Regions from separate parts of the Homo sapiens genome. Here regions 2 and 3 are each linked to region 1. Evidence: fine-mapped expression QTL. A gene starts in region 1. Each other region holds a variant in brackets. All regions are shown on one strand. Distances are from middle to middle.

The links. PIP is the estimated chance that this variant, and not a neighbour inherited with it, causes the effect. A credible set is the group of variants that fine-mapping cannot tell apart.
Region 2: its variant is the best candidate, but not a certain one, in a credible set for the expression of ITSN2 in stomach (GTEx, PIP 0.58).
Region 3: its variant is the best candidate, but not a certain one, in a credible set for the expression of ITSN2 in whole blood (TOPMed, PIP 0.79).

What each region holds. Positions count from the first base shown.
Region 1 is chr2:24,357,524-24,365,710 of GRCh38, reverse strand. It overlaps ITSN2 (intersectin 2), which reads left to right and starts at 5,175. Exons shown (of 40, transcript NM_006277.3): 1 at 5,175-5,407. RefSeq lists an enhancer at 4,742-4,891 and silencers at 4,992-5,291, 5,302-5,351, 5,362-5,761.
Region 2 is chr2:24,234,251-24,242,437 of GRCh38, reverse strand. The region is part of intron 29 of ITSN2 (intersectin 2); the gene reads left to right. Among named protein-coding and RNA genes, the nearest start is that of FAM228A, 63 kb to the right of the region's middle. The variant G/A (reference allele first, on the strand shown) is at 4,475.
Region 3 is chr2:24,191,085-24,199,271 of GRCh38, reverse strand. FAM228A (family with sequence similarity 228 member A) reads right to left here. Exons shown (of 6, transcript NM_001040710.3): 6 at 7,574-8,187. Among named protein-coding and RNA genes, the nearest start is that of FAM228A, 20 kb to the right of the region's middle. The variant T/AT (reference allele first, on the strand shown) is at 4,778.

The sequences.
Region 1 (8,187 bases):
TTTTAAATTAAAAAACTGTTGCTATCTAAACCCAGAAGAGCATGGCCTATGTTTCTCTATTTAAATGAGGAAAAGAAAATCACAACTAGGCATAGGAAAATTCTCCAAACACAAGGCAAAAGCCTGATTTTACCTCTCTTTCTTCATACCAACCAAAGTGAGACAATCCCAAACAGCACTTTACCCTAATTCCCAGGATTGTTACAAGGATTAAATGAAATAACAAAAGTACTCTGCCAAGTGCAAAATGCTACATTAATATTAGTTACGTTATTATAAGAAGGGAACTGGTATCACTCCAGGTTTGTGCTGCAGACAGCAACGATGAAATAAGCAGACAGCTGGGCATATCTGCCAGACAGGAAACATTTCTGACTCTTGAACACAGATTGGATTCCCTTTCGCTGAGCTACACCTGCCAGACTGGAAGCCCCTGGTGCTTTGGTAATGAATGAACACGTCCTGTCCAGGGACTTTAGGGCCTCGCCCAGTCTGGCCTTTGACTCCACCCTGCAGTGCTGGCCTAGGCCCAAGTCTCGGCTAACTTCCCCCTTCAGTTTGCCTGGTACTGCCTTTCCGGTACCATCAGGCCTCAAGCCAGAGTCTCAAGTTATGCACAACATTAGTGGCCCAATAATGAGAACACTCCTTCCTTCCATGCCAGGGCTGGGAATTTCCCTTCTCTCCTCTTTCCCCTGAAGTCACTCCTATTTCCACTTCTCTGCTTTTCTTCTGCCCCGGACTCCAGAAGGAGATCTGTAAGGTCAAGAAGCTAAGAAAAGATCCAAGGACCAAATTTGTCCCATTGACCATTCTTGTGAATTGAGTCTCCACTGCTCCTCACCAGTGCTCATTCCTTGCGAAGTCCTTGTTTCTAGTGGCCAGAACATGGTAGGGTCTTTTAAAAATTATTAATTTAAAAAATATATAACTCATACCTACTGCTGTTCACGTGGAACTCTTCTCCACTTCTGCCTTCAAAATTCCCATCTGAATATTTGCTACGAATGTCAAGATCTGTGCCTGCATTGGCTCCACCCAGGCCTGTGCCCCAGGCTTCAAGTCTCAGGGCAGAGCATCTGCAGGGATGGGAACTTGGGGTTGGGGGTTGAAAAATGGGAAATGATGCCATCTGCTCAATCCCTTTCCTCTCCCTTCCTCTGCTCCTCCAGTGCCATCCATTTTCAGGGTTAGTTTGTTTGGCAGGTGGGAAATATTATCATAGGAAACTCGGATCCTCAGGAAAGAATGAAGAGTGCCCAAAATAATAAATATCTGGATAAATCAAGACTATTTTTGTTGCCTGTAACCTATTAATTTCTTTATAAATTATTTATTTAAAACTTGGCTCATGCCTGTAATCCTAGCACTTTGGGAGGCTGAGGTGGGTGGATCACCTGAGGTCAGGAGTTCAAGACCAGCCTGGCCAATATAGTGAGACCTTGTCTCTACTAAAAATACAAAAAATTAGCTGGGCTTGGTGGTGGGAGCCTGTAATCCCAGCTACTCAGGAGGATGAGGCAGGAGAATCGCTTGAACCTGGGAGGCGGAGGTTGCAGAGAGCTGAGATCGCGCCATTGCACTCCAGCCTAGGCAACAAGAGTGAAACTCCATCCTAAAAAAAACAAAACAAAAACAAATAAAAAACCCCCAAAGTTACAGCATTGTTTTGAAGGTAAAACTATAACATGAAATATGAGCTCCAGGTTCTCAGTCTTTCTACTCTATATGATAATGGTATTTATCTTATGGGATGCCTGGACTCTAGAACTGTTGCTTCTACCTATTCTATACTCTTCTTACACTGCAGGTTTGTTTTGGGGGTAAACATGGTAGAAATGGGGTACAGGATGGAATCTTTGAAAACTAACTTAAGGGGAGATTGATAGAACATAAGATACATATGGTTGAGGAGAAGGATCAATAATACATGGAAAAGAAAACAGATAGAGACTAAACGCTCCCAGGGTAAAAGCTAGGTCACCAGGAACAAGTCTAAGAATCTTGCCTAGACTGTGGCAGAACTAGAGGAAGAGAAATGTAACATGGTAGGACTTAGCTCCTCCAGGTATTTGATTTCCAGCTGGTGCCAGAAGTAAAGAAAAGATGCTGGGATTTGGAGAATACTAAGGAGGAAATGTATAGACACACTTCCAAGGCTGCCCTATGAGAAGAGGAAGTCAAGGAACTGGGATGGCGGCTGCATCATCTAAATGAATCATGAACACTGAAAGACACTAAGGATGATGAAGGTCCTGGGCGGAGAGTACTGGCTGCTCCATGTGCAGAAATTCTTGAGGAATATATTGAGTGCCCTGGAAGATGGTAAATGATAAGGATGAGGATAGAGGATGGGTGTAGCTAGTGTTATAAGCCTCATAGGAGAAGGGGCTTTTGCATGTGAGTGGAAAACTAGGATCTGGATGCAGTCGAGGAGCAAGGAAAATGTTTCTTCAGCCACTTCCAAGGTCTGTGCTTCCCTCCTGTATTCCATTCTTTATCTTGTTGAATAGAACTACCATTACCCAAAAACCCAAGAACCCTTTACTCCTTCTCATTCCTTATATCCAACCACCAAATGCTTAATATTGCCCAAATTTATCCCTGAATCACACAGGGTGGGAGGTATGTGTGAGAGAGAAGATAGATAACTGGAGGTGCTTGCATTTTGGGCTGTGATAGAGTAGGACAGGATGGACAAACTGGCCTCAAAGTTCTGAAGGGAACTCTGGGATACAGTTGTTTTAGTACTTGGGATACTGTAGGCATGCATTCAGGACCCTGATTTCCAGCAGAGGTTGTTAGTTTTTTGGTTTATTTTAGGGGGGCTTTAAATTTTTTTTTATTCCTTTATAAGCATCTCTTTCTACAAATTCCATTTTTGTCCTGCCAAGGATTTGGCACCTCCTTTAGAAGGAAAGGAGACTCAGGGTAAATTGCACCAGGTCTAGAACCCGAAAACACAAATGACATTGGTCAAAGGATGGGAGAAAAATGAAGACTAGCTATGTGCCTAACAGGAATAAAAAATAGGTTTTACCTCTCAGACCAACTCTCTGGAGCACTATGTTGTGAAGGATTCTGGGGCTTTGACTCTCAAATATGGGCTCCAAAAGAGCATATCAGTTAACTGGTGAAGGGTGCAATGGGAATGAGGCCACGTGCTCAAGATTGCTATCCTTGGCCTGGGTGGTTTGTTTGCAGATAAGGACAGATTGGCTGGTCCCCAGCAAGTGAGGGGCCTCCTAGACTGATAAAAGAGTCAGGCTTCTCTGTGTCACTGAAGCTCAGGACCTGTCTGTCAGGTCTTGGTCAGGTTCTAATCGAAGAGTTAGGAAAAACACTGAGTGTGAGAGCGGGAAAAGCCTGTTTATCATCATCGATGTTTGGTAAATTCCTCCTAAGCTGGCTGGCCAGTTCAGATAGGCCTGGGTTTGGAGCCATCTCACCTTCACCTGCCTCAACAGGTAAGGAATGAAAGGATGCCAGGGGTTATTTGATCTACACAGATCAAATCAAGGGATATGAGTTTTGGACCCCAGACCAGCCCTCACCCTGCTTCTAAAAGCCAAAATAAATCTTGGGTCTTGGCCGGGCGTGGTGGCTCACGCCAATCCCAGCACTTTGGGAGGATGAGGCGGGTGGATCACCTGAGGTCAGGAGTTTGAGACCAGCCTGGCCAACATGGTGAAACCAGTGTCTACTAAAAATACAAAAATTAGCCGGGCGTGGTGGCAAGTGCCTGTAATCCCAGGTACTTGGAAGGCTGAGGCAGGAGAATTGCTTGAACCTGGGAGGCGGAGGTTGCAGTGAGCACAGATCTCACAGTTGCGCCACTGCACTCCAGCCTGGGCAACGGAGTGAGAGTCTGTCTCAGGAAAAAAAAAAAAAAAAAAAAAAAAAAAAAAAGAAATCTTGGGTCTTATATCCAAAAATCTTGAGTCTTACATTTGGTTACTTTTTTTTTTTTGAGACAGAGTTTCGCTCTTGTCGCCCAGGCTGGAGTACAGTGGTGCAATCTCTGCTCACTGCAACCTCCGCCTCCCAGGTTCAAGCGATTCTCCTGCCTCAGCCTTCCGAGTAGCTGGGACTACAGGCGCCCGCCACCACGCCCAGCTAATTTTTGTATTGTTAGAAGAGGCGGGGTTTCACCATGTTGGCCAGGCTGGTCTCCAACTCCTGACCTCAGATGATCCACCTGCCTCGGCCTCCCAAAGTGCCGGGGTTACAAGCGTGAGCCACTGTGCCAGGCCGACATTTGGTTACGTTCATTAGGAAACACTAACTCCTCCCTCACCCCAATCAAAAGAAAGCCTTTCCCCTTGAAGAAGCTTCTTGTCAAGGGCAAACCTTTGGGGTTTTGGGATACGGTGGCGGCTTGAGTTGAAGTCTGGTCTTTTGTGAGGAGACCAGGAACCGGGAGGGGAGAAAAGAGACAAATTCTGAGTAGGAGCTTCGCCTGTCCCTTGGCGAGGGGTGGGGAGGAAAGTTTAGCTTCGTCGTGCTATGCTCTATGGGGACAGAGTCTTCCTACTGCTCGGCGGAGTGTGACTAGCGTAGAGGGTGCTCCTCGTGGGCGCTCCGCGTGTGTTATGGAGGAGGGCGAGGAATGGTGAATGGATGACCGAGGGTATGGTTAAGTCCTCCAGGTCCCTGAGAAGGGTTCAAGAGGCCTGTAACAGACCCATGGGCAAGGGTGGGATCAACCTCCTTCCCACCTTCCACCCCCCAATTCCCAGAGAATTCGTTCCCCCAGATCAGTGGAGAAAACTTCGGCGAGTGAGAAGGTTCCAGGGAGAACCCCGTGGTGGGTGCAACAGGGATGTGGCAGGCACTGCTTGGGACTTTCCAAAACCCCGGCGTCTGCCGTGGCAGGAAAAGCACCACCCAAGCTCAGCATGTTACCTCGGGGAGGAGGAGCCAGGTGGGTCTGTGCAACTCCAGGAAGGGCTGCCAGGTCTGGGGCTTCGGGGCCTCCCCGAGGGCAGAGAGGAGCGCTTCGGACCCGACCGACTCGGAGCAGACCTTCAGGGTTCAATGCCCCGGAACTCCTGGGGCGAGGAGCCACGCCCGGGCAGTTTCGGGCTCCGGAGGGTGGGGAGTCGGTGCCCGGCAGCGGGCGGGCCGTCAGCTGCCCGGCCCGGCGCCTACCTCCCCGCCCCCCGGCTTCCTGCGGAGGCCGCGGCCGCCATGTTGTTGTGGGGCTGAGGCGGCGCCGGCGGAGCCCTGAGCGGCTGTGACAGGCTACGCAACAGGTTCGCGGGCGGCGGCCTGACGACCAAGCCAGCTGCAGTGGCGGCGACGGCGGCAGAGCAGGGTCTCCCCGCGCCTGCCCGCGCCCAGGCTGCCGGTGCTGAGGGACGCGGAGTCGCGCTGTGACGAGCGGGAGGCGCGGCGAGGGCGCCAGGTGGGTGAAGCCGCTAGCGGGGCTGCAGCAAGGCGCGGGGCAGGTGCGGGCGCCGCGCCCGCTGCCCGGAGGCTCTGCGGGTCGGGCTGAGGCGGCTGTGCGCTCCGCACGATGGGGACGGGTCCTCGGGAGTACGGGCGGCCCCCGAGCTAGGCCCCTGGCGGGCTCGGCCGTGCGGGGCGGAAACCTCCGGCCCCGGGTTCCTTCCTCTGCTGCCGGGCCGGGACAGACGCCGAGGGGGCCTGGGCTGGGCTGCCCCTTCCTTGCGGCCGAGCCCGGGTCCCTGGCCGCGGCCTCGTCTGGCAGGTGGCGGACGCCGGCGAGGGTCGGGGGTGGCGTGGCCCCCTCGCTTTCGGGGTGTGAGCAGAAGAGAGCTCTGGGGGCACCCGCACGCCTCCTCGGGGACCCATTTTATTTTCGCGGAGTTGGTTTTCCTTCCTGGCAAGGGTTGGTGCCGAATGTCAGGTGAGCCGCATCCCGGTGCGTCAAAGTAGCCCGAGTCACGAGAGGACAGTGGGCGGATGCTTGGCGTCTACCGCTCGCGTTCCTCCGGAGTTGGAAATGTTAAATTTACCTTCAGCGTTATTGACTTCCAGAATATACAGGAAGCACCGAGAGATGTAATCTCTCAGGCCAGATAAAGTTTATTTGTGTATTTATTTATTTATTTTTAAAGACGTCTGCATATGCATAGTGAGTGGGTAAACCGAGGCTGAAACTGCAGATGGCTTTGTATTCTATAGAAAGATGCTCCGTTTGGATTTATTAATTATGCGCCTTGTCGCTCTAGAATTACCAATGGCAAGTGTGCTTTATTTGAAACTTGTGTTAATACTGAAATAGGAATATTTTTTGATGGAGCCAACCCCTTTACGATAGGAATTAAGGTTAGCATAGAAATGACTTGCTTTGCTCCATGCTTCTAGTTTGTCTCACTAGTGTTTGCTTGCTTACTCAGAAATAGGCAAGGTGTGACTTGAAATTTTACGTTGTTAGTGAGCTCAGTTTAGGTAGCATAGCTCTTGTAGTTTAAAGCTTCTTAAGCGTTTCGAAAAATTGCCTCTCTCCCTGTGCTGGTTTGCTATATTGTTAATCAGTGATAAAACCTAAAAGCTACCTAGAAACATCGCATAAAACATTTACGCGAATTAATAATGACGTCCTTCCAAATTTAAAGATACTGACAACTCTGATGTGTTTTCCTTTAGCTTTTTTTGGCTGTGCCTGTGACTCTCTTGTAATTTCAAAAGTAAATAAAGTGGATGTATTTTATGTTTTTGAAAACGTGGAAAAAATGTGCATTGCTGCTATTTTGATGTAATATTAATAAGCAGTTGAAAAGCTTGCATTTTTTCACCCTTCCATGCATTGATAACTATTCCCTGTGCCCACCTTTGTAATGAAAGGTAAACTCGTCCAAGAAAACTTGACCTGTACAGAATTACTAAGCAGGGAGTTACCATTGTTCGGTACATCTCAAGGCTAAAATCTTGATCTCTCCTGAATATGAGGAGGTGTGTTAGGCATGTTTTGGGGATTGGATTAATAGTGTTAAAAAATTTGTATTTTCACAAAAATAGCATGTACCCATCACCCAAACTCAGCAGCTTTCAAGAAGCTTTTCTTTTTTTCTTTCTTATTTTAAAAAATCCTTTAACCTTATGTAGTTAGTATATCTTTTTTAAAAAGTAGAAAATCATGTAACCTTAGGATTTTTAGTTTTAATGTAGAGTTTCACAAATTTCCATCTTTAGTAAGACAAAAGGGTCACATATTGGCTGTCTCCTTCAACTATACTTTCTTCAGTATAAAATATGTTTACCATGGTTGTCATTTATCGAGCACGTAACTGCATGTTAGACTCTATGCTAAGTGTTTTACATAATCATTTAAAGCTCACTAAGGCCCTAGGAGTAATTATTATCTTCCCATCAAAAAGGTAAGTGAAATGTTAACCTGAAGTTTGACTACTTTAGGTCTCTGAGCTAGTAAGTACAATAGCCAGGTTTCAAACCAAGATCCTTTTAACTGCAGCACCTGTGCCTTATCTGGTAGAGTCATCTTGGTTCATACATTTAAAAAAGAGTTATCTATGTGCCGGGTGCCCTGGCTCATGCCTGTAATCCCAGCACTTTGGGAGGCCGAGGAGGGCGGATCACCAGGTCAGGAGTTTGAGACTGACCAATAAGGTGAAATCCTGTCTCTACTAAAAAATACAAAAAATTAGCCTGGCATGGTGGCGTGCGCCTGTAGTCCCAGGTACTCAGGAGGCTGAGGCAGGAGAATCGTTGAACCCGGGAGGCGGAGGTTGCAGTGAACCGAGATCGCACCACTGCACTCCAGCCTAGGCGACAGAGTGAGACTCCGTCTCAAACAAAAAAAAGAAAAAAAAAGTTATATGGGCATTCAGTAAAAAATATGTGTTTAGTGAATGAGTGAAAGTACATATTAGTCCATTAAGTAGCATTTTTACATATTGTATTTACTTGTAAAACATTTATATTAACAAGTTCCAGAAATGATTCAGAATAAACGAGTTACATTACCAAAAATGTGATATATTTATTACCATCTAACGGTGCATTTTCTTTTTCTTTTTTTGGATTCAAGTTTTTTTAGTACCTTTTTTATTTATGGAAAAAATTTGTGAAAAAACTGTTTTTGAAGAAAGGCAGACTTTCTTGTGTGCCGATTTTTTTTTATTTCTTACAAAAAAAACAGGATATATGTGCAGAACGTACAGGTTTGTTACATAGGTATACGTGCACCGTGGTGGTTTG
Region 2 (8,187 bases), 120 kb after region 1:
TTCTTGTAATAGTCAATGAAAGCTAGTTAAATTATAGATTACCATTTGTGTTTCTTTGGCCCTTTTAAGTATTATTTTTCATTTTGTTACATAATTAGAACTTTTTTTAAGATAGAGAATTTTAACAGTTCAAATTTGTTTAGTTGATGTTGCATGTTGTTACTAGTCAAATTTTATCTCACCCACCTAATTTGCATTATGTTCATTTTATTCCTCATTTTCTTTTTTTAGGACCCAATGTTGTCTTCCAGTTGTGAAAGCACCCCAGAGACCCACTATCCAAGTTTCACTCTAGCGTGGAGGCAGGGCAGGCAGCCCTGATCAAATATCTCCTACACAATTCGTTTACTTCGTTTGAATGTTAGAGCCACTTGTGATTATTTTTTTGTGTTTCTAACTTACAGTTTAAATTTATTTGTAAAAAGTTAAAGGATAGTGGGTCTTTGTGTGGCTTTCCCTGCTGTTCACTCTGGCATCTTTAGCATTTTTCTTCTTTTTTAATTTGATAATTGTAGGTCATTAGCATGCATATTGAGTTTGCCCTTATGTGGTGGGAGTTCAAACACACAAAGACCCACTATTTGCACAAACTATTCTTACTGGTTTGGAATAGGCTGCCATGCTTTTTTAATGTTATTGCAACATGTGTATTCATTTACAGAATTCAGATAAAATTTGCTTATGTTCTGCTATTATGTTTGATCTAATCCTAATCACAGTGAGCTCTTAATTAGCTCAATATGTGGTTTGCCCTCAAGTGTGCACTGTTTATTACTTTGTAATATGCCACTATGAGTACTGACATTTAGATTTGTTTAAAGGCCAAGAACTGGAAACAGCCATGCCCTGTTTTCTGTGTATTTGGGATGGGAATAACAACATTTTGGGGGAGCTTTTTAAATCTCAGAGAAGAGGAAAGTGGCCTGCTCTGGCAGGTATGTGCAGTGTTTCATTTGTTCCAGTCCCAAGAATGAGCACTGTCCTATGGTAGTTCGCTTAGGATCTTTATGTGCTCTGGGCTAATGAAGGTACTGCATCATGTGCTGCAGCGTGTGTATTCTTTTTCGATGACCTATAAAGGGATTATTTTTGAGGAATGAAAGGCTCCCATCATTGACTGTGAGATGGGAAAAACCTTTCCTAGCTTAGAGCATTTATATCTTAATCCATTTTAAAGTCAGAGTTCATTGTTACCTGTTTTAATCAGGTGACTACATGTCCCAGTATACAAAGGGGCACTGGTTGACATTCTTCTTAATGTATTTAGTAAATATCATAAGAAATCCTTTAAGAGTTTAAATGTCCCCAAAACAGACATGTGGGCTCTAGTCAAGAATGAATTAGAGTGAAGGAAAGCTGTGTAACACCTGGCATTCCTCTGTGTTCATGGAGCTTCTTTGAGGCTCTAAGATTGATTTTACCATCAGACTTCTCTAATACCTGTTCTTCAACCATATTGGCTACTTTGACATAAGAATTTACTTCTTTTCCTGGAATGGAAAACACTTTAAAAAATAATAACAAACATTATTATAAACTAATATATGTGAGAGTACTTAGTTGATACAAAAAGGAGTTTTAGTAGACAGTATTATACTATATTTGAAAATCAAGGAGAATTTTATGCAACTTAAAATGTTTACAAACTGCAGTGCAATCTACTGTTTGTGAATGTCAAAGTATCAGGAAAAGTGTATATACAATCACAGAGTCATATTTCCTCACAAAGTTATTTACAAAGAGTGAAATATGTTTTTGTACCTCTCAGTTTCAGTTAGAGGCATATTTTGTGCAATATTTATGTTAATGTGCCTATACATTATGAATGAATTATTTCAGTCATACATTGCCTAAATCATAACTTTATGATGCTTGGGAAAGAATCAACAGTTAAAACTTCATAAAGTTATAATGTCTGTGTTCCAAAATACATCACATTATTAGGATGTAGGGAGATAAGTATGTGTGCTCCCTAGGGTGGCAATTTCTAGTTACTAGACCACCTCTATTTTTAGCATTTGGCATCCTCATGATACTTTTATAAATATGACATTAATAGGAAAGCAATAATTTCATTTTACAGATAGAATAACAGATTTGCCTGCATTCACTGAAAGAGTGCAAAGACTGGGTCCTTGTGAATTCAACTGACTCTCCCAAATTGTATTAATTACCTGTTCTTGCCTTTTATTTTCTGAACTTGCTGCTTTTGCATTCTTTTGAGTTCAAAGACAGTTACTTTAAATCCATTTTTAAACCCTCGGGGTAGAAATCATACCACTGTTAATCAGCCACATTATTTGGTCTAAGGTTTTTTCTTTATAATTCTGAAACTGAGTTTATCTAATACATTGATGAATTATTTCAAACGTATTTTTATAGTTCAAATCACTTCACTTTTACACTGATAAATATAAATTACTGGGAATGACCTTCAGACAGCGTTTAGCATCTGTAACCAACCTGAAAATAATATGTTCATCAGGTACCTATGGATTAAATCATATACTGGCGTATTTAAGCTGAATGTCAGTCTGGAAAATAAATTTACTATATTAACTGAAATACCACTCTTTGTGTAGGTATTTTGTCATGTATTTAAGAAAAAGATAAAAAGAATGGAAATCATATGACATAATAACTTAAGTCTTTCTTAAAAGTGCATGCTGTCTTTTGCAATACCTCATTCAGCCAAGTATTTGTTCTCTTCCTCATTCAGTATAAGTCAGCTTTCAATTTGCTTAGAAGGCAACATTAGAAGGTTAGAGTTCATCAGAAACATAGAATTTTAAAATGTGAGTTCAACTGAATAAATTTGAATTTCTGTAGGAGGTAAAGAATCAAAATACCTGTTTAAAGATTGCAATTGCAATGTATAATAATCACTTTTAAATTATTTGATTAAACCTTTTAGGTTTTCCAGAAATGAAAAAAATCAGTTCTAAAACCAAAGCTGATTTTTAGAAAATTTGAGAATGTAAATCAGCCCTATCCATAATATAGTTTCTCTAAAACTTTATCTTAAAGAGTCATTTTAAAATAATATAACTATTAAAAATGTAACTGATATTTAAATGTTTTGAAATAAAACATTTTAAAATATAAATACTGTAGTTTAAAAGAAAGAAACTGGGGGAAAGAAAAGTAGAGAAAGAAATACCAATTCCAGTCCAAAGCTTTATTTGCCAGGTTTTCTTAGAATGACTTTTACCAGTTTATGAATTCTTGTAAACAGAATCTATAATGGAAATACTGAAAGACTTTTGCCTAAAGTGGCATTATTGAATGCTGCTGTGATGCTACTGTAATGTAATAAATTATTAAATTGTTGCAAAGTGCTGTTTTTGCCTTAAAATTTTATTTTGTGTGTCTTGAAAATTATAGTATTAAAGGTATTGAGATTGTGCAAATGCTGGGCACGCTTGGCATGAGATAATCTGTTTTTATTTTTACAAAATTGTAATATAACTATGCAAGTGTGTTTATTAAAAGAACACAAACTATATTAGTTGTATTGTGTATTTCTTTTGAAACATTCTTTAAAACTTACTTTTAATTGTTTTTATTTAGTCATGATTAAATGTCTTTGGAATGTCTCTTTTTCCTTAATGTAGTCTCATGAGAACAGGCCAGCAAATTGTTTTATATCATAGGGGGCAAAATAAATGTATAAGTGGTCAAGATGAAGATAATTTGATTGGAGATAATCATATGTATCTCAAAAGTGAAATAAAGTTTGATTTTAATACATTGTTGCTCACAAAAGTAAGGAAAACATAATCTAGGGTAATAGACTTGTGTTTTTATAAGTTTTACTGCAACTTTTTTCTAAAAAGATTGGATGGAACTTACAAATTAATACTCATTGCAAATGTAGAGTAAGACTTTTAGTACAAAATAAGAGTTTATGTAAAAGAAACAGCAGTGAATGCTTGGAGGTATCAAAGTTAAGCAGTGTTAAAGTTAATCATGTTGGTGGTCGTATAAGCCCTTGGGTGGAAAGAAAGATATGGATCTAAATCCAGTCCATCTGTCAACATCTAGCACAAACAACCTCTTTCCAAAAAGCCTTTCCTCATCTCCGGAAACTTATTCAACTAACATGTATGAAGTGTTTACATAAGGCTAAGCAGGTGCTGGGGATACAAAACTGAGTGTCAAGTGGCCATTGTCTTAGGTGGTACATAGTTCTTTGAGGGGATTAGGCCCATATGCAGATAATTATAAAACAGCATATTCAGCACAGTGATAGATATTTGCCAGGCACTTAAGGACTACAGAGAAGGAATACCAAATTCAGCCATAGATTGGTGAACGAGAGACTTGCTGGAGGAAGCAACTGCCAGGTCCATAAGATAAGTAGCAATAAGCCAGATTTGGTGGGTAGGATGGTGGAGTGTATGATAAAGACAAGAAATGGCATGGTGGGGAAGTGTAATTATAAGCATTTCAGTATCGTCAGAATGGAAATACA[G/A]AGCCAGGAACTATAAAAGTTGAGGCTTGAGAGGCAGGCCAAGGGCTAAGTCAGAAATTCTCTAGCTCAGCTGTATGTTGGAATCACTTGGGAAACTTGAAAAATCTATAGTTTCCAGGGTCCTAATTTAAATGGATTGAAGTTCGGCCTGATCGTGGGGATCTTTCAAAGCCTCCCATATGATTCTGATATGCACCCAAGGTGGAGCAAAAAATGATGAAACGGAGTTCTGAGGGAAAATTGGCAGGAACTGGAGATAGATGGAATATGAGTGTCGGTGGAAAAGTCAGTTATTTCCAGATTTGTGTCTTGAGGGACAGGATGGGATAATGGTGCCACCAACTGCAGTGAAGAATTAGAGTTGGGGGAAGAAGAGGAGTTTGGAGCACCTATGGGATGTCCACATAGAGTTGTCAAGCAGGTGGTCAGATAAGATAGACAACATCAGATGTACACCACCTGGTGGAATGACATACATATTGGTAGTTGTTGAACCAGTGAAAGTAGATGAGATTACTTGGGAAGAAGATCAGACCTCCTAGAAGATCAGCAGTTAAGGGTTGGATAGTGAAAGGAACTCACAAAGATGGGAAACAGGTTATATGAGAAAGAGATTATTTTGCTATTTTCATGATTTTTAAAAAATAATGAAATTTTGGCTCTGCAACCATCTCTCACACCAGTAAAAATAAAAGAGGAAAAGTGCTCTTTTTTGAGGACTTCTTAGTTTAGATACTTTTCTAAGGTCCTTGAATGTATTACCTCTTCATTGTTTTCTTTTTTGAGATACAGAAATTAAAACAGATTAGATAATTTGTCCAAGTGGAACCTGCTAGTAAGCGGTAGAGGTGGTCCATGGTCTGGCTCCCAAGTCCATGCTGTTAGCCTCTACACTAGTGTGCTGATATTGCCACCATCTCCTAATAATGAACTTCGGCACTACAACTGTTACTCATACCAGTGAAACAAAAACAGGATGGTGGCTCATGCCTGTAATCCCAGCACTTTTGAGAGGCCAAGGTGGGTGATTACCTGAGCCTAGGAGTTTGAGGCCAGCCTGAGCAACTTGGTGAAACCTGTCTCTACAAAAAAAAATAAAAAATAAAAGATAGATAGATAGATAGATAGCTGGGAGTGGTGCTGCTGCACGCCTGTAGTCCTAGCTACTCAGGAGGCTGAGGCAGGCAGTTCAATTGAGCCTGGGAGATCGAGGCTGCAGTGAGCTGAGATCACACCACTGCACTCCAGCCTGAGTGACAGAATGAGACCCTATGTCCAAAAAAAAAAAAAGAAAAAAAAACACAGGAAAAATCAGAGATTGCACAGGCTTTTCTCTATGTAAAAAGGACACACAGAGAAGAGTCAAGGAGTCAAAGACTGAACATAATAAACAAGGACAAGACTCTATGACAATAGTATCCAGAAGGATAAAGCTGAATGTAATCACTTTTTTTGGTAACAGCTTCATTGAGATACAATTCACTTGCCATGCAATTGGTGGTTTTTAGTGTATTAACAAAGTTGTCCAACCATTTCCACAGTCACTTATAAGACATTTTTATCACCTCAAAATGAATCTCTGTACAATTTAGCTATCACCCCCATTTCCCTAAGCCCCCCTCCAGCCTTCAGCCCTGAGCAGGCACTAATCTTTTGTCTCCATGTTTGTCTATTCTGAACATTTCATATGTATGGAATCATAAAATGTGTAGCATTTTGTGATTGGCTTATTTCACTTAGCATAATGTTTTCAAGGTTCATCCATGTAGTAGCATGTAGCTGTACATCATTCCTTTTTATGGCCAAATTAACATCCCATTGTGTGGATATGCCACGTTTTGTTCATTCATTATTTAGTGGACATTTGGGTTGTTTCAACCATTTGGCTATTGTGAATAATACTGCTGTGAACATTTGTCTACAAGTTTTTGTGTGAACATATGTCCATGTTTCTTTTGGATATATATCTAGGAGTAGAATTCCCAGGTCAAATGGCAAATCTATGTTTAATTTGTTGAGGACCTGCCTCACTGGCTGCACCATTTTCTATTTCCGCCAGCAGTGTACAGGGCTTTCTGTTACTCCACATCCTCACCGGCACTTGTTATTATCTGACTTTTATTATAGCCATCCAGTGGACATAAAGTGACATCTCACTGTGGTTTTGATTTGCATTTCCCTGATGACTAATGATATTGGGCATCTTTTCATGTGCTTGTTGGCCATTTGTATACCTCCTTTGGAGATATGTCTATTCAGATCCTTTGCCCGTTTTAAAATTATTTGTCTTCATAATCACTTTTTTAAAAGACTTCATTTTTTAGAGTAGTTTTAGGTTCACAGCAAAATTGAGAGGAAGACACAGAGATATCCCATATGTCCCTTGCCCCGACACAGGCATAGCCTCCCCCATTAACAACAACCCCCACCAGAGCAGTACATTTGTTACAATTGATGCACCTACATCATGTCATTATCAAAGTCTGTAGTTTACATTAGGGTTCAGTCTTGGTGCTGTGCATTCTGTGGGATTGTACAAATGGGTAATGACATACAGCTACCATCACAGTATCATACAGAGTATTTTCACTACCCTAAAAATCTTCTGTGCTCTACCTGTTCAGCTCTCCCTCCCTCCCATCCCCTGGCAACCACTGATCTTTTTACTGTCTCCATAGTTTTGCCCTTCCCAGAATATCATATGATTGGAATCACACAGTACATAGCCTTTTCAGATTGGCTTCTTTTACTTAGTAATAGGCATGTAAGTTTCCTCCATATCTTTTCATGGCTTGATCCTTTCGTTTTAGTGCTAAATAATATTCCGTTGTCTGGGTATACCACAGTTATCCACTCACTGAAAGATATTGTGATTCCTTCCAAGTTTTGGCAATTCTGAATGAAGCTGTTACAAATATCTGTGTGCAGGCTTTTTTGTGGACATAAGTTTTCATTTCCTTTGAATCAATACCAAGGTGTGTGATTGCTGCTGGATCATATGGTTTAAGAGTATGTTTAGTTTGTAAATGGCAAACTGTCTTCCAAAGTGGCTGTACCATTTTGCATTCCCTCCAGCAATGAATGAAAGTTCCTGTTGTTCCACATCCTTGCCAGCATTTGGTGGTGTCAGTGTTACAGATTCTGGCCATTCTAACAGGTGTGTAGTGGTATCTCATTTTTGTTTTAATTTGCATTTTCCCAACAACGTATGATGCAAAGCATCTTTTTATATGCTTATTTGCCATCTGCATATCTTTTTCCATGAGGCATCTGTTAAGGTCTTTGGCCCATTTTTTTATTTGTTTTCTTATTGTTGAACTGTTAAAAGAGTCCTTTCCATATTTTGAAAAATAGTTCTTTATCAGATACGTCTTTTGCAAATTTTTTTTCAGTCTGTGCCTTGTCTTCTCATTCTCTTGACCACATCTTTTGCAGAATGAAAGTGTTTACATTTAATGAAGTCCAGCTTATCAACTCTTTCTTTCATGGATTGTGTCTTTGGTATCATATCTAAAGAGTCATCACTAAACCCAAGGTTATCTAGATTTTCGCTTACACTATTTTCTGGGAGCTTTATAGTTTTGTGTTTCAGATTTAGGTTTGTGATGCATTTTGAGTTGATTTTTGCGAACAGTAGAGACCTGTGTCTATATTTCATTTTAAAGACAATTTCTTTTTTTTTTTTCGCATTTGGATGGCCAGTTGTTCCAGCA
Region 3 (8,187 bases), 170 kb after region 1:
TCTTTAAATTCGCCAGTTGGAATTAGTTTAGCCTGTGCGGTCTAACCCTGGCCAATAGGGGAATGACACAGCCGCAGGGGCCACGTGCGTCAGGGATAAGAACCCTTTCTCCTCCCTTGTCCAAGTGTGCGCCCACCATTGCTCCATCTGTAAGGGCGCACCCTTCTACATAGAAGTATCTTGCCTTGGGGCTGGGTGCAATGGCTCACACCTGTAATCCCAGCACTTTGGGAGGCCAAGGCAGGCGGATCATGAGGTCAGGAGATTGAGACCATCCTGGCTAACACAGTGAAACCCCGCCTCTACTAAAAATAAAAAAAATTAGCCGGGCGTGGTGGCAGGCACCTGTAGTCCCAGCTACTTGGGAGGCTGAGGCAGGAGAATGGTGTGAACCTGGGAGGCAGAGCTTGCAGTGAGCCGAGATCAGTCACTGCACTCCAGCCTGGGTGACAGAGTGAGACTCCGTCTCAAAGAGTACAATGGGGACAGTAAATTTAGATAGCCATTACCAATTTTAGTTAGTCAACAACAATAATTAGAAGTACCTTGCCTTGCTGAGAATTAAAAAGAAAATCTTAATATTCGAGTGGTATTTCTTTTGTGGCACCGAAACTTTATATATAACACGATGCTTGTCTGTTAGAAGGAAAACTAACAAACAGAAAGGACATCCACACCAAAAACCCATCTGTACGTCACCATCATCAAAGACCAAAAGTAGACAAAAACCACAAAGATGGGGAAAAAATAGAGCAGAAAAACTGGAAACTCTAAAAAGCAGAGCACCTCTCCTCCTCCAAAGGAACGCAGTTCCTCACCAGCAACAGAACAAAGCTGGACGGAGAATGACTTTGACGAGTTGAGAGAAGAAGGCTTCAGACGATCAAACTACTCTGAGCTACAGGAGGAAATTCAAACCAATGGCAAAGAAGTTAAAAACTTTGAAAAAAAATTAGACGAATGGCTACCTAGAATATCCAATGCAGAGAAGTCCTTAAAGGAGCTGATGGAGCTGAAAGCCAAGGCTCAAGAACTACGTGAAGAATGCAGAAGCCTCAGGAGCCGATGCGATCAACTGGAAGAAAGGGTATCAGTGATGGAAGACGAAATGAATGAAATGAAGTGAGAAGGGAAGTTTAGAGAAAAAAGAATAAAAAGAAACGAACAAAGCCTCCAAGAAATATGGGACTATGTGAAAAGACCAAATCTACGTCTGATTGGTGTACCTGAAAGTGACGGGAAGAATGGCACCAAGTTGGAAAACACTCTGCAGGATATTATCCAGGAGAACTTCCCCAATCTAGCAAGGCAGGCCAACATTCAGATTCAGGAGATACAGAGAATGCCACAAAGATAGTCCTCGAGAAGAGCAACTCCAAGACACATAATTGTCGGATTCACCAAAGTTGAAATGAAGGAAAAAATGTTAAGGGCAGCCAGAGAGAAAAGTCGGGTTACCCACAAAGGGAAGCTCATCAGACTAACAGCTGATCTCTCGGCAGAAACTCTACCAGCCAGAAGAGAGTGGGGGCCGATATTCAACATTCTTAAAGAAAAGAATTTTCAACCCGGAATTTCATATCCAGCCAAACTAAGCTTCATAAGTGAAGGAGAAATAAAATACTTTACAGACAAGCAAATGCTGACAGATTTTGTCACCAACCAGGCCTGGCCTAAAAGAGCTCCTGAAGGAAGCACCAAACATGGAAAGGAACAACTGGTACCAGCCACTGCAAAAACATACCAAAATGTAAAGACCATCAAGGCTAGGAAGAAACTGCATCAACTAACGAGCAAAATCACCAGCTAACATCATAATGACAGGACCAAATTCACACATAACAATATTAACTTTAAATGTAAATGGGCTAAATGCTCCAATTAAAAGACACAGACTGACAAATTGGATAAGGAGTCAAGACCCATCAGTGTGCTGTATTCAGGAAACCCATCTCACATGCAGAGACACACATAGGCTCAAAATAAAGGGATGGAGGAAGATCTACCAAGCAAATGGAAAACAAAAAAAGGCAGGGGTTGCAATCCTAGTCTCTGATAAAACAGACTTTCAACCAAGAAAGATCAAAAGAGACAAAGAAGGCCATTATATAATGGTAAAGGGATCAATTCAACAAGAAGAGCTAACTATCCTAAATATATACGCACCCAATACAGGAGCACCTAGATTCATAAAGCAAGTCCTTAGTGACCTACAAAGAGACTTACACTCCCACACAATAACAATGGGAGACTTTAACACCCCATTGTCAACATTAGACAGATCAATGAGACAGAAAGTTAACAAGGATACCCAGGAATTGAACTCAGCTCTGCACCAAGCAGATCTAACAGACATCTACAGAACTCTCTACCCCAAATCAACAGAATATACATTTTTTTCAGCACCACACCACACCTATTCCAAAATTGACCACATACTTGGAAGTAAAACACTCCTCAGCAAACGTAAAAGAACAGAAATTATAACAAACTGTCTCTCAGACCACAGTGCAATCAAACTAGAACTCAGGATTAAGAAACTCACTCAAAACCGCTCAACTACATGGAAACTGAACAACCTGCTCCTGAATGACTACTGGGTATATAACGAAATGAAGGCAGAAATAAAGATGTTCTTTGAAACCAACAAAAACAAAGACACAACATACCAGAATCTCTGGGACACATTCAAAGCAGTGTGTAGAGGGAAATTTATAGCACTAAATGCCCACAAGAGAAAGCAGGAAAGATCCAAAATTGACACCCTAACGTCACAATTAAAAGAACTAGGAAAGCAAGAGCAAACACATTCAAAAGCTAGCAGAAGGCAAGAAATAACTAAAATCAGAGCAGAAATGAAGGAAATAGAAACACAAAAAACCCTTCAAAAAAATCAATGAATCCAGGAGCTGGTTTTTTGAAAAGATCAACAAAATTGATAGACCGCTAGCAAGACTAATAAAGAAGAAAAGAGAGAAGAATCAAATAGACGCAATAAAAAATGATAAAGGGGGTATCACCACCGATCCCACAGAAATACAAACTACCATCAGAGAATACTACAAACACCTCTACGCAAATAAACTAGAAAATCTAGAAGAAATGGATAAATTCCTGGACACATACACCCTCCCAAGACTAAACCAGGAAGAAGTTGAATCTATGAATAGACCAATAACAGGCTCTGAAATTGTGGCAATAATCAATTGCTTACCAACCAAAAAAAGTCCAGGTCCAGATGAATTCACAGCCGAATTCTACCAGAGGTACAAGGAGGAGCTGGTACCATTCCTTCTGAAACTATTCCAATCAATAGAAAAAGAGAGAATCCTCCCTAACTCATTTTATGAGGCCAGCATCATCCTGATACCAAAGCCTGACAGAGACACAACCAAAAAAGAGAATTTTAGACCAATATCCTTGATGAACATTGATGCAAAAATCCTCAATAAAATACTGGCAAACTGAATCCAGCAGCACAACAAAAAGCTTATCCACCATGATCAACTGGGCTTCATCCCTGGGATGCAAGGCTGGTTCAACATATGCAAATCAATGAATGTAATCCAGCATATAAACAGAACCAAAGACAAAAACCACATGATTATCTCAATACATGCAGAAAAGGCCTTTGACAAAATTCAACAACCTTCATGCTAAAAACTCTCAATAAATTAGGTATTGATAGGACCTATCTCAAAATAATAAGAGCTATCTATGACACACTCACAGCCAATATCATACTGAATGGGCAAAAACTGGAAGCATTCCCTTTGAAAACTGGTACAAGACAGGGATGCCCTCTCTCACCACTCCTATTCAACATAGTGTTGGAAGTTCTGGCCAGGGCAATGAGGCAGGAGAAGGAAATAAAGGGTATTCAATTAGGAAAAGAGGAAGTCAAATTGTCCCTGTTTGCAGATGACATGATTGTACCTCTAGAAAACCCCATTGTCTCAGCCCAAAACCTCCTTAAACTGATAAGGAACTTCAGCAAAGTCTCAGGATACAAAATCAATGTACAAAAATCACAAGCATTCTTATACACCAATAACAGACAAACAGAGAGCCAAATCATGAGTGAACTCCCATTCACAATTGCTTCAAAGAGAATAAAATACCTAGGAATCCAACTTACAAGGGATGTGAAGGACCTCTTCAAGGAGAACTACAAACCACTGCTCAATGAACAGATACAAACAAATGGAAGAACATTCCATGCTCATGGGTAGGAAGAATCAATATCGTGAAAATGGCCATACTGCCCAAGGTAATTTATAGATTCAATGCCATCCCCATCAAGCTACCAATGACTTTCTTCACAGATTGGAAAAAACTACTTTAAAGTTCATATGGAACCAAAAAAGAGCCCACATCACCAAGTCAATCCTAAGCCAAAAGAACAAAGCTGGAGGCATCACACTACCTGACTTCAAACTATACTACAAGGCTACAGTAACCAAAACAGCATGGTACTGGTACCAAAACAGAGATATAGATCAATGGAACAGAAAAGAGCCCTCAGAAATAATGCCGCATATCTACAACCATCTGATCTTTGACAAACCTGAGAAAAACAAGCAATGGGGAAAGGATTCCCTATTTAATAAATGGTGCTGGGAAAACTGGCTAGCCATATGTAGAAAGCTGAAACTGGATCCCTTCCTTACACCTCATACAAAAATTAATTCAAGATGGATTAAAGACTTACATGTTAGACCTAAAACCATAAAAATCCTAGAAGAAAACCTAGGCATTACCATTCAGGACATAGGCA[T/AT]GGGCAAGGACTTCAATTACCAAAAGCAATGGCAACAAAAGCCAAAATTGACAAATGGGATCTAATTAAACTAAAGAGCTTCTGCACAGCAAAAGAAAGTACCATCAGAGTGAACAGGCAACCTACAGAATGCGAGAAAATTTTTGCAACCTACTCATCTGACAAAGGGCTAATATCCAGAATCTACAATGAACTCAAACAAATTTACAAGAAAAAAACAAACAACCCCATCAAAAAGTGGGTGAACGACATGAACAGACACTTCTCAAAAGAAGACATTTATGCAGCCAAAAATCACATGAAAAAATGCTCATCATCACTGGCCATCAGAGAAATGCAAATCAAAACCACAATGAGATACCATCTCACACCAGTTAGAATGGCGATCATTAAAAAGTCAGGAAACAACAGGTGCTGGAGAGGATGTGGAGAAATAGGAACACTTTTACACTGTTGGTGGGACTGTAAACTAGTTCAACCATTGTGGAAGTCAGTGTGGTGATTCCTCAGGGATCTAGAACTAGAAATACCATTTGACCCAGCCATCCCATTACTGGGTATATACCCAAAGGATTATAAATCATGCTGCTATAAAGACACATGCACACATATGTTTATAGCAGCACTATTCACAATAGCAAAGACTTGGAACCAACCTAAATGTCCAACAACGATAGACTGGATTAAGAAAATGTGGCACATATACACCATGGAATACTATGCAGCCATAAAAAATGATGAGTTCATGTCCTTTGTAGGGACATGGATGAAACTGGAAACCATCATTCTCAGCAAACTATCGCAAGGACAAAAAACCAAACGCTGCATGTTCTCACTCATAGGTGGGAATTGAACAGTGAGAACACATGGACACAGGAAGGGGAACATCACACTCCGGAGACTGTTGTGGGGTTGGGGGAGCGGGGGAGGGATAGCATTAGCAGATATACCTAATGCTAAATGACGAGTTAATGGGTACAGCACACCAACATGGCACATGTATACATATGTAACAAACCTGCACATTGTGCACATGTACCCTAAAACTTAAAGTATAATAATAATAAAATTAAAAAAAAAAATAACAGTACCCTTGTACACTGTTGGTGGAATGTAGATCACTACAGCCATTACGGAAAACAGCATGGAGGTTTCCAAAAAAAACTAAAAATAGAATGACCATACAATTCAGCAATCCCACTTCCAGGTGTATATACATATATTCAAAGGAAATAAAATCACCATCTTGAAGGGATATCTACACTCCCGTGTTCACTGCAGCATTATTCACAATAGCCAAGAAATGGGAACAACCTAAGTGTCTGCTGACATGAACTGGTAAAGAAAATGCATATGGTACACATACCATGGACCAATAACCCGCCTGAGAAGAGAAGGAAGTCCTGTCATTTGCAACAACATAGGTGAATGTGGAGGATGTTATGGTAAGTGAAAGAAGCCAGGCACAGAAAGACAAATACTGCCTGATCTCATATTGTCAGAGGTGTGTGAACCAGGGCAACTCCATCTTAAATAGGAGCTGGGTAAAATAAGGCTAAAGCCTACTGGGTTGCATTCCCAGACGGTGAGGCATTCTAACTCACAGGATGAGATAGGAGGTCAGCACAAAATACAGGTCATAAAGACCTTGCTGATAAAACAGGCTAATAAAAAAGAGCCAGCCAAAACCCACCAAAACCAAGATGGCGACGACAATGACCTCTCGTCACCCTCACTGCTACACTCCCACCAGCGCCATGACAGTTTATAGATGCCATGGCAAGGTCAGAAAGTTATCCTATATGGTCTAAAAGGGGAGGCAAGAATAATCCACCCCTTATTTAGCATATCATCAAGAAATAACCACAAAATGGGCAACCAGCAGCCCTCAGGGCTGCTCTATGGAGTCGTCGTTCTTTTATTCCTTTACTTTCTCAATAAACTTGCTTTCACTTTGCACTGTGGACTGGCCGTGAATTCTTTCTTGCTTGAGATCCAACAAACCTCTCTTGAGGTCTGGATCAGGACCCCTTTCCTGTAACAATATGTGGTATCTAAAGATGTCAAACCCATCCAGAGTAGAAGGGTGGATACCAGAGTCAGGGCGTGGGGGCAGTGAGGTGACAGGTGTTGGTCAAAGGGTACAAACTTTCTGTGGTAAGTACTGAGGCAGGAGAACAGGGTCTGGAGACAGGGACAACAGCAAGGTCTGAGAAAACAGCAAGGTCTGGGCGCAGGAAATCCAAGGCCAATTCGAGCTGCCTTCCCAAAGCTGGGTCAAAAGGAAAACACCTGGGTCTGGGGGCAGGGAACCTGAGGCCAATTAACACACACTTCTGAAAGCGGAACCAAACAGAAAACCCCATCTCCCCAAGCCAAGCAGCAAAAGATCAAAGGCTACTCTCCCTATAACGTCTTAGATGGAAAGGGAGAGTGCCCTGGATTAGCTGCAGCCAACACAGGGACCATCCCTTCATCTGCGTAGAGCGCCAATTCACCTCAGCCTTTAATTAGCCAGGGACCAAATCCTTCATCCAGATAAGGGGTAGCAGATAAGAACCTCAAACAGGGAACTTAACACCCTTGAGCCCTTGCTGGGTCTGCTCCCACCCTGCAGAGCTTTCTGTCTTGAATAAATCTCTGCTTTCGCTGCTTCGCTCCCGCGTTTCATTCCTCTGCTACTCTGTGTGTTTTGGTCAATTCTTTGTTCAAAATGCCAAGGACCTGAACAACTCATAGTGAAGACCCTCCATGAGTAACAGTAGGTTCTAGAGGCCTAATGGACAACACAGATACTACAGTTACTAATAACATATATTTGCAGTTTGCTCAGAGAGTAGATTGTGAGTATTCTCACCACACACACGAAAACAGTAAATGTGAGCTGGTGGGTATGTCAACAAGCTTGACTGTGGCAAACATTTCACAATGAATACCTATAGCAAATCATCACGTTGTACATCTTGAATATTTGAAAAATACATGGAATGAGGAGCTCCCTGTGCTCTCAGATATAATTATGCTCAGAGGAAACTGCTGAAGAGTCACAGGTAACTTACCACAGACGGAGAATCCCTTACTCCCTGGAGAGACCGGGGACAGCGATGGGACTGAGCAGGAGCTGGGTCACAAAATACCTATCCAGGCTCACAGGCTGGAAAGCAGCAGCAGTCCCCCATCCTGTGTGTGTGGTGGTGAGGGTGGGAGTGACGCTGTCAGGTCCTGAGCTGAGCGGTGGCCCACCAAGCCCCCTAGGCCTTCCCTGGGAGGGTCCTGCGCCTCAGGCCTCAGGGCACAGGGCGTGGCGGAGAGAATGGAAGGGGAAATAGACCAGGAGCTGAAAACTGTGTCAAATGAACCATGAGCTCTGGATAAGAAATCCATACTCAGAAAATTCCTACATATAAAAA